Linked DNA regions of Homo sapiens: region 2 is linked to region 1. The links come from fine-mapping of genetic effects on gene expression. A gene starts in region 1. The other region holds a variant in brackets. All regions are shown on one strand. Distances are from middle to middle.

The links. PIP is the estimated chance that this variant, and not a neighbour inherited with it, causes the effect.
Region 2: its variant is fine-mapped to the expression of ESR1 in spinal cord (GTEx, PIP 0.99).

Annotation. Positions count from the first base shown.
Region 1 is chr6:151,804,666-151,810,049 of GRCh38, forward strand. ESR1 (estrogen receptor 1) reads left to right here and starts at 3,017. Exons shown (of 8, transcript NM_000125.4): 1 at 3,017-3,699. The coding sequence starts at 3,248.
Region 2 is chr6:151,876,721-151,882,104 of GRCh38, forward strand. ESR1 (estrogen receptor 1) reads left to right here. Exons shown (of 8, transcript NM_000125.4): 3 at 3,935-4,051. Among named protein-coding and RNA genes, the nearest start is that of ESR1, 72 kb to the left of the region's middle. The variant T/C (reference allele first, on the strand shown) is at 2,274.

The sequences.
Region 1 (5,384 bases):
TGGTCTCAAGAGCCACTCATAAATCTCTCAGTAACTGCATAGTGTCCCAGGGCCAGAGACCGGCCACTCCTGGCATTGTGATTAGAGTCATTTAATATCCAAGGTGGTGACTAATGTCTGGCAACAAAGCCTCCATTGGGTGTCATGTGTCCTGGGACCCTGAGCGTGGGCACTCTAGGAGCACCTCAGTATTGCGTGTTAGTACTATGGCCGAGAGAATAGTTGAGAAAGTGGTCAAGAGGTGGATCCATGTGAACGCCACTGGGAAATGAGAGACCTCGTTCCCAATCACGGTCAGTGCAACTCGAAAGCCTAAAATCAGTTTAAAACAAAGGTATCTACCTTTATCTTATGTTCATATCCTAGGCTTTTAATAATACGTATTTTTCACATGTTTACAGAAAGCAGTCAACTGAGCTATTCATGGAAAGGTTTGTGGGTTTGGTTAACGAAGTGGAGGAGTATTACATTTCAGCTGGAAACACATCCCTAGAATGCCAAAACATTTATTCCAAAGTCTGGTTTCCTGGTGCAATCGGAGGCATGGCAATGCCTCTGTTCAGAGACTGGGGGCTAGGGCCAGTAAGGCATTTGATCCACATGTATCCCAGAAGGCTTTTATTGTTAAATTATATTCTTTCGGAAAAACCACCCATGTCCTATTTTGTAAACTTGATATCCATACACTTTTGACTGGCATTCTATTTTAGCCGTAAGACTATGATTCACAGCAAGCCTGTTTTTCCTCTTGCTTGGGGTGGCAGCAGAAAGCATAGGGTACTTTCCAGCCTCCAAGGGTAGGGGCAAAGGGGCTGGGGTTTCTCCTCCCCAGTACAGCTTTCTCTGGCTGTGCCACACTGCTCCCTGTGAGCAGACAGCAAGTCTCCCCTCACTCCCCACTGCCATTCATCCAGCGCTGTGCAGTAGCCCAGCTGCGTGTCTGCCGGGAGGGGCTGCCAAGTGCCCTGCCTACTGGCTGCTTCCCGAATCCCTGCCATTCCACGCACAAACACATCCACACACTCTCTCTGCCTAGTTCACACACTGAGCCACTCGCACATGCGAGCACATTCCTTCCTTCCTTCTCACTCTCTCGGCCCTTGACTTCTACAAGCCCATGGAACATTTCTGGAAAGACGTTCTTGATCCAGCAGGGTAGGCTTGTTTTGATTTCTCTCTCTGTAGCTTTAGCATTTTGAGAAAGCAACTTACCTTTCTGGCTAGTGTCTGTATCCTAGCAGGGAGATGAGGATTGCTGTTCTCCATGGGGGTATGTGTGTGTCTCCTTTTTCTTTCAGGACTTGTAGGATTCTTTGTGCCATTTGCATATAATTTGGCAGGTTCACATTTTTTAAGAGCCCTATGAAGTGCTTTTTGCATGTGTTTTAAAAAGGCATTTGAAAATTGAAAGTGTGATTTATGGAAATTAAATCATCTGTAAAAAATTGCTTTGGAAAGTAATGATTGCTGGCCATAAAGGGAAATATCTGCGATGCACCTAATGTGTTTTTAACCCTTTATTTGCTGACAATCTATAGTCATTAATGCTAAACTCGATTTTGGCTTCAGCTACATTTGCATATTGTCCAACAATGGTCTATTTTTGTAAGAATTAGATAAAATGTATACTTGATATAAAATAGTCAAAAATGTAACTCTTAGTAACAGTAAGCTTGGCATTTAGATAGACCATGAACACTTCGTCAGATACTCTGTTGGGTGTTTGGGATAGCAATTAAAACAAAGTATTGATAGTTGTATCAGAGTCTATTAGGCTGCAGCAAAGGAAGTTTATTCAAAAGTATAAACTATCCAAGATTATAGACGCATGATATACTTCACCTATTTTTTGTCTCCTTAATATGTATATATATATATATATATATATATATACACATATATGTGTGTGTGTATGTGCGTGTGCATGTTTAACTTTTAATTCAGTTAAAAACTTTTTTCTATTTGTTTTTCATCTGGATATTTGATTCTGCATATCCTAGCCCAAGTGAACCGAGAAGATCGAGTTGTAGGACTAAAGGATAGACATGCAGAAATGCATTTTAAAAATCTGTTAGCTGGACCAGACCGACAATGTAACATAATTGCCAAAGCTTTGGTTCGTGACCTGAGGTTATGTTTGGTATGAAAAGGTCACATTTTATATTCAGTTTTCTGAAGTTTTGGTTGCATAACCAACCTGTGGAAGGCATGAACACCCATGTGCGCCCTAACCAAAGGTTTTTCTGAATCATCCTTCACATGAGAATTCCTAATGGGACCAAGTACAGTACTGTGGTCCAACATAAACACACAAGTCAGGCTGAGAGAATCTCAGAAGGTTGTGGAAGGGTCTATCTACTTTGGGAGCATTTTGCAGAGGAAGAAACTGAGGTCCTGGCAGGTTGCATTCTCCTGATGGCAAAATGCAGCTCTTCCTATATGTATACCCTGAATCTCCGCCCCCTTCCCCTCAGATGCCCCCTGTCAGTTCCCCCAGCTGCTAAATATAGCTGTCTGTGGCTGGCTGCGTATGCAACCGCACACCCCATTCTATCTGCCCTATCTCGGTTACAGTGTAGTCCTCCCCAGGGTCATCCTATGTACACACTACGTATTTCTAGCCAACGAGGAGGGGGAATCAAACAGAAAGAGAGACAAACAGAGATATATCGGAGTCTGGCACGGGGCACATAAGGCAGCACATTAGAGAAAGCCGGCCCCTGGATCCGTCTTTCGCGTTTATTTTAAGCCCAGTCTTCCCTGGGCCACCTTTAGCAGATCCTCGTGCGCCCCCGCCCCCTGGCCGTGAAACTCAGCCTCTATCCAGCAGCGACGACAAGTAAAGTAAAGTTCAGGGAAGCTGCTCTTTGGGATCGCTCCAAATCGAGTTGTGCCTGGAGTGATGTTTAAGCCAATGTCAGGGCAAGGCAACAGTCCCTGGCCGTCCTCCAGCACCTTTGTAATGCATATGAGCTCGGGAGACCAGTACTTAAAGTTGGAGGCCCGGGAGCCCAGGAGCTGGCGGAGGGCGTTCGTCCTGGGACTGCACTTGCTCCCGTCGGGTCGCCCGGCTTCACCGGACCCGCAGGCTCCCGGGGCAGGGCCGGGGCCAGAGCTCGCGTGTCGGCGGGACATGCGCTGCGTCGCCTCTAACCTCGGGCTGTGCTCTTTTTCCAGGTGGCCCGCCGGTTTCTGAGCCTTCTGCCCTGCGGGGACACGGTCTGCACCCTGCCCGCGGCCACGGACCATGACCATGACCCTCCACACCAAAGCATCTGGGATGGCCCTACTGCATCAGATCCAAGGGAACGAGCTGGAGCCCCTGAACCGTCCGCAGCTCAAGATCCCCCTGGAGCGGCCCCTGGGCGAGGTGTACCTGGACAGCAGCAAGCCCGCCGTGTACAACTACCCCGAGGGCGCCGCCTACGAGTTCAACGCCGCGGCCGCCGCCAACGCGCAGGTCTACGGTCAGACCGGCCTCCCCTACGGCCCCGGGTCTGAGGCTGCGGCGTTCGGCTCCAACGGCCTGGGGGGTTTCCCCCCACTCAACAGCGTGTCTCCGAGCCCGCTGATGCTACTGCACCCGCCGCCGCAGCTGTCGCCTTTCCTGCAGCCCCACGGCCAGCAGGTGCCCTACTACCTGGAGAACGAGCCCAGCGGCTACACGGTGCGCGAGGCCGGCCCGCCGGCATTCTACAGGTACCCGCGCCCGCGCCGCCCGTCGGGGTGGCCGCCGCGCCCGGCAGGAGGGAGGGAGGGAGGGAGGGAGAAGGGAGAGCCTAGGGAGCTGCGGGAGCCGCGGGACGCGCGACCCGAGGGTGCGCGCAGGGAGCCCGGGGCGCGCGGCCCAGCCCGGGGGTTCTGCGTGCAGCCCGCGCTGCGTTCAGAGTCAAGTTCTCTCGCCGGGCAGCTGAAAAAAACGTACTCTCCACCCACTTACCGTCCGTGCGAGAGGCAGACCCGAAAGCCCGGGCTTCCTAACAAAACACACGTTGGAAAACCAGACAAAGCAGCAGTTATTTGTGGGGGAAAACACCTCCAGGCAAATAAACACGGGGCGCTTTGAGTCACTTGGGAAGGTCTCGCTCTTGGCATTTAAAGTTGGGGGTGTTTGGAGTTAGCAGAGCTCAGCAGAGTTTTATTTATCCTTTTAATGTTTTTGTTTAATGTGCTCCCCAAATTTCCTTTCATCTAGACTATTTGATTGGAAATATGTCAGCTATGATGATGACTTTCTGGGAAGCGATTCCTGTCACCCGCTTTCCCCTCCTCCCCACCCCACGTCCTGGGGCTTTAGAGAGCGATTGGGAGTTGAATGGGTCTGATTTCGGAGTTAGCTGGCTGAGTCCGCGCTGGAGCGGATTGCTGGCATGTGACTTCTGACAGCCGGAAATTTGTAGGTGTCCCGCGAGTTTAAAACAAGCCATATGGAAGCACAAGTGCTTAAAAATAATCTCCTGCCAGCCCAGTGACAAGCCTGTCCCACCCGGGGAGAATGCCCCGGAGTGGCGTGCGGGTCAGCCAGGGTCTGCGCCTCGCAGCCACTGTGGAAGGAGCGCGGCCGGTCCAGGACACAGGAGACCACTTTGTGACTTCAATGGCGAAGGTTGTGTGTCCTCATTTTAATTTTTTTCCCTACAAGAATTGTTCTTTCTCCCTCTCCTCTCCCTCCCATTTTCTCTTGCCCAGTTTCTCCTTTTGTTTTTTGTTTTTTGTTTTCCTGATGGGCCTGCAGAGGGATTAGGTGGGCGCTTCTGGTGAACACCTTCCTAGGTGGCCACAGGACAGGTGTACCCCGGACTGGGTTTGGAAGCTTCAGGGCGCCACATGGCTGGGTCCTGAATTAGGCATTTCCCAACTGTACACTGGTATCCGGACTGGTGTCCCTATATCTTTCTGCCTTGTAAGCCGTGGACCAGTTTTTGTTCAGTATTCTGTTTCCAGGGATATTTATAGCAGAAGGAAGGGGACTAAAGTGCAGTTTGGCCCCAGAGGATACTGAAGGGCAGATTCTGGGGGTATTCAGTGTGCATCTTCAGCCGCCTTGGAGAAATTTAGAGCATCCCACAGCCACGCAGATCCAAGCTGTCTTTACTCAAAAGACAAACAATGAACAAAACTTTTAAAGGTTGGCATATTTCAAATTAATTTTACTTGTTTTAATTTAGGGTTAAAACAGAGAAAAAGGATTTCTTCTGCCCACCTTTTTTTTTTTAAATGGAAGAACAAAGTACAGCGATTAAGTCTAATTCCACACAACATTTAAAACTGCTTGATGTGAAGGAAGGCACTGGTATGATGTGAATTCCATAACCTTATGATGGACTCCAGAAACCATTTTCTTCCCTATTTAATTTTCAGTTCTTTTATTGCAAATTAATGCT
Region 2 (5,384 bases), 72 kb after region 1:
TCTTTCTGGTTCCATCTCATTCACCTCCTGTCCCCTCCACTTCCTGCCAGTCAAACCTTAGATTCCTCCAGAGGCTTTTTATTTTTATCTTTTGATGGGCAAGAAAATAGTGCGGATTATTTTTCCAAACCTTCACCTGAACATCACATCGTGGCTTTGGCCCTATGGGCTTGGTTCATCCGGGCCTGCACAGAAGGACTTTTCGGGCCAGTCTGGTCACATACATCGAGTCCTGTCTTTTCAGTTAAAAAAAAACACACACACACACACTGCTATGTTTCACTAAGACAACTGGTGTGAGTTGTTTTTTAGAAAATCAACTCTACTTCAGTAAGATTTTCTCAAGCATTATCTTGAGAAGACCAGATAATAAAATTTAAAAAGAATTTCTTCTTTTTTTTTTATTATACTTTAAGTTTTAGGGTACATGTGCACATTGTGCAGGTTAGTTACATATGTATACATGTGCCATGCTGGTGAGCTGCACCCACTAACTCGTCATCTAGCATTAGGTATATCTCCCGATGCTATCTTAATGCAACTTAAATCAATTGCTTTAATAACACATATTGACCAAGTTACACTCATTAAGGAAAAAAAACTACTTTGTTGTTTTTCTTCTTCTGACGTGAGCTGAAGACTTAGAAATAGTTGTTAATAGTGTTTGGTTAATAAGAATTTGTTTTAATTGCATATATCAAATATGTATTTATTAAACTTTTCTTTTTGTCAGTTTATCAATTCTAGCTTTGTCACAAAAGGTTTGCCGTATGAACATGATTCTGTTGTACATCTATTTCCATTTTTGTTAAGAGACGAATTCAATTGTAAAAATCTAGTACCTTTTATTCATTAAACATGTTAGTTCAGGAATTTCACTTGGTTCTACAAAGATACATATCTACAGTGGATGGCCAGTGCAAACATGAGACTCAGCCAACTGGTCTCTGACCCAATTCAGTTCTCCTGTCTTCTTCTGGCTTACAAAGTAACTGGCTCTGGGGAGAAAGTGAGTCAAAGTAATATTTGGTTTGAATGGTTATTGACTATTTTCTTCTGAAACTTAATGTATACTAATTAATTTTTTATTTTATTCTTTTTTTTTTAGAGATAGGGTCTCGCTCTGTTGTCCATGCTGGAGTGCAGTGGTGCTATCACAGCTCACTGCAGCCTTGACCTCCTGGGCTCAAGCGATTCTCCTGTCTCAGCCTCCCGAGTAGCTAGGATTACAGGCATGTGCCATCATGCCAGGCTAATATTTAATTTTTTTTTTTTGTAGAGACAAGATATTGTTATGTTGCCCAGGCTGGTCTAAAACTCCTGGTCTCAAACTATCCTCCCACCTCAGCTTCCTGAAGTACTGGAATTATAGGCATGAGCTGCCACACCTGGCCATATACTCATTTTTTGTTAAAAGCTGAAATATATCAGCATATACTGCATAAATACCACAGGAGACTAAACACTGAAAGTTTCTTTAGGGTATCAGAAGAATACACTTTTTGCTTGCAGTTAGCATCTGCACAGATAAGTTTTGTTTCTGGTTCTATTACTTCTTCAGTTTGACCCTATTAATAAGGACAATTCTAAAAATAATAACTGTGTCTGGATATCTGAATCCGTGTGTGGTCTTTTACTGAAGTTACAGGTTTATAACTCTGCTGACTAGTTTGCTGGTTTCTGTTATGCAATAGAAGAGTGCAAATGTTAATTTGATCTGAAGCCCGTGTATACAGTGACTTTTATAATGTATATTTAAAGATGGAAAGCCAAGTTTTATGAGGCCAGCATTTCTTGTCAAGTCCTCACTCCACCCTCTTCTAATTGGGCCTGACCCTTAAGTTGAATAAAGAACAAAGAGCTCTGTAGTTAAAACATTTCACTGCATGTTGCATCTTGCCCTTAGTAAATGGAAAAAAATAGAGACTTAAGCAGAGAATCTGAACTAGGGTGTGAAATATATATTCAGTTTTGGGGTGGGAGAATGAGAACCATGTTTTACAATAGTATACATAACTTCCTTAGTCTAAATTCAGGACATTTCCCCAAGATATGTAAGAATTTAGACTTATGCAGACAGACTTTATAAAAACATGCCAATATTTATTAGTTTGTGAATTTTAATATTCTGCTCCCTATAAACCAGATTTATTTTGAGGGATAAAGGGATGGAGGTGACTTCTAAATCTTAGAGCAGAAACTTCCTGTGGGCAGCTGGACATATGTACCAGGAGCTCAGAGAAGAGGGTTGTGTTGGGAGCGTACATTCTGAG[T/C]GATCTGCATTTGGTGATGATGGAAGCCATGGACATGCACTAGATTGTCTTGTGGGAGAATATGGAGTAGTAAGAGAAGAAGAAGACCTAGGATTGAGCCCTGAGCACCTCTGGCTTAATGTTGGATGGAGGAAATTGAATCTGTAAACAATACCGGGAGGCTGCAGCCTGAGAGGCAGAAGGAACTGGGGTGTTTGGGATTATGGAAGCCAAGGGAAAAAGCCTGTCTCACAGCGGGAAGGGAGGTATCAACATTGTAAGCTGCTTCAGATAGGTTATGTAGGATGTGGACTGAAAAATACCTGTAAAATTTGGCAACGCGATTCATTGGTAATCCTAGGGAAGTTGCTTTTTTGGGGTAACTAAGGTGGAAAACAGATTGGTGTGGGTTGAGCAATGCAAGAGAGGTGAAGAAAAGGAGATTTCATGTGCAGACGTTTCTGAGTTCAGCTGGGAACAAGGGATAAGATAGAAGATGGAAGTTAGAGAGCATGTGGGGCAAGGGAGACTCTTTTATGGGACAGTCTCGCATGTGATCAAAGCCAATGAGTAAGGAGCATTTGAGGGAGAGAGAGTCAATCAACAAGAGAGAAAAGAAAGAGGGTTCATCATAAAATAACGGTAACAACAACGAACATCTTTTGAGTGTTTTCTATATCCGGGGAACTATGGTAAACTCCTAACCTGCATTCTCACATTCAATTCTTAGAATCGTTGGATGTGGTGGGTTCCATGATTTCCTCTAGATTAGCGAGGAGGAAAGAGAGATCTAGAAATGTCAGGTAGCTTGCTCAGAGTTCTCCAGGTAGTCAGTCATGGACTAATTTGTGAACTGAAGGACTGAACTTCGTCACCACCCAGCCCACCAAGCCGGCTTGACTTTAGGTATTCTGTGCTGCATGTGAGTACCGACTTAAATTATATTTTAAGAAGGGCTACTTTGAAACTCTCTCTCTGAAAACTCTATTTCTAAAAGCTCTACCCTCACAACAATTTTGGCAAGCAGTCTTGGTAAAACCAAACCAAACCAAACCAAAACCAAAAAACCTTATCTGCTGAGAAAATATAACCACATAAAATATGGTGCTACAAAATATAGACTGTGTGAACTGAAGGTGACTTGCCCAAAGGACTCCTGAAGCAATTGGCTGCTGTAGAAATTAAGTCCACGGGAGGTTTTTTGTTCTGTTTTTTTTTTTTTTTTTTTGAGATGGATTCTCACTCTGTTGCCTAGGCTGGAGTGCAGTGGCGCAATCTCGGCTCACTGCAACCTCCGCCTCCCGGGTTCAAGCGATTCTCCTGCCTCAGCTTCCTGAGTAGCTGGGATTACAGGTGTACACCACCATACCCAGGTTTTTTTTGTATTTTTAGTAGAGACGGGGTTTCACCATGTTGGTCAGGCTGGTCTTGAACTCCTGACGTCGTGATCCACCTGCCTCGGCCTCCCAAAGTTCTGGGATTACAGGCATGAGCCACCGTGCCCGGCCCATGAGAGGTTTTGTTTGCACTTCAAGAAGGACAGAAAAAGGCAGGCAGGCTGGGGAGCAACATAGTAAGGCTGAGGAAGTGATAGGAAAACAGCCTCCAAAAGGTTTCCCTGTAGATTCTGACTGGCTAAGTTTCCTGAAATAATATTAATTCTGTCCTCTTGCTTTTAATAGGACATAACGACTATATGTGTCCAGCCACCAACCAGTGCACCATTGATAAAAACAGGAGGAAGAGCTGCCAGGCCTGCCGGCTCCGTAAATGCTACGAAGTGGGAATGATGAAAGGTGGTAGGTACATCTCTCCCAGGGGCCCTTGGGGATGGCCCTGGCCACCGCCCAGTGCTGGCTCTACCCATTGGAATAACACCATGGGAATTTTGTGTTTTTTTCTTTTAATTGTTTTTTTTCTATTCTTATTTTTCTTTGCAACAAAAGTATTTTCATAATCCATTTTATTTTAAAAAGGTGGAAGTGTCTGGAACTGGAAATTCTAACATGGCATTTTGTGTTTTGGATTTTCAATGTAAATAATTATATTTTAAATCAAAGGTGTGTGGGAGGCGGTGATGGAAGGAAACGAAGAGTGCTTAGTAAATTATTCTAGAAATATTTTTCAGTTACTGTTTATGTTGCAAATGCTAGAAAATGATATCTGAGGATAAACTTTCCCTAAATTGAGACTTGTAAATGTGAAAGCTGAGTAGCTAATTTATAGCCTTCCAGTCTGTTATCATCCCTTAAGGAATGTGAATTTCAATCAAAAGGCAGTTTTCTCCTTTAGAACCTGAGTGAACCAGCCACTTTCTTAACCTCAGTGTCTAGCATGGTGCTGGCATAGTTGATTACTGAGCACTACACTAACAAGTGTCAGAGCATGCATGGTTTGTGACTGTGGGTTTGTGTTTTTGTGGTCTTTGTGGCTGTGTGTGTGTGTGGTTTTCTGTCTTCTCATGTATCCGATCTTCCAGTTTTGTCATACAGGAATCTGGAAACTGAATCCCAGTTCTGGGAATATTAGGAGCCCCATAAATGTGGTTGCCTGATTGACCTCATTGTATTCTTGGGAGTCTCATCTTGAGGAACATTGCTTCTAGTCTTGGATAGCCTTCAGTGTAGTGGAAGAGAACAAGTAGAAAATGTGTAATTAAAATAAAGTCATGAGGCTGAGGTGGGCAGATCATCTGAGGTCAGGAGTTCGAGACCAGCTTGGCCAACAAGGTGAAACCCTGTCTCTATTGAAAATACAAAAATTAGCTGGGTATGGTGGCGAGTGCCAGTAGGCCCAGCTACTTGGGAGGTGGAGGCAGGAGAATCACTTGAACCTGGCAGGTGGAGGGGGCAGTGAACTGAGATGGCGCCACTGCACTCCAGCCTGGGTGATAGAGTGAGACTCTGTCTCAATAAATAAATAAATAAATAAATAAATAAATAAATAAATAAATAAATAAAGTAACGGATTCATTTAGTGTTTCAGAAGGATACTGAAGGGAGGGAAGGGCTGATGATGGTGCTACCTGCTGATTGTAATAGGGAAAAGCCCGTTTCTTTTCTGAAGGAGGTGAAGCTTGGGGTGATTTAAGGAGAACAAAATTTCAATGAAAAGGAATAGTGATTTTGCAAA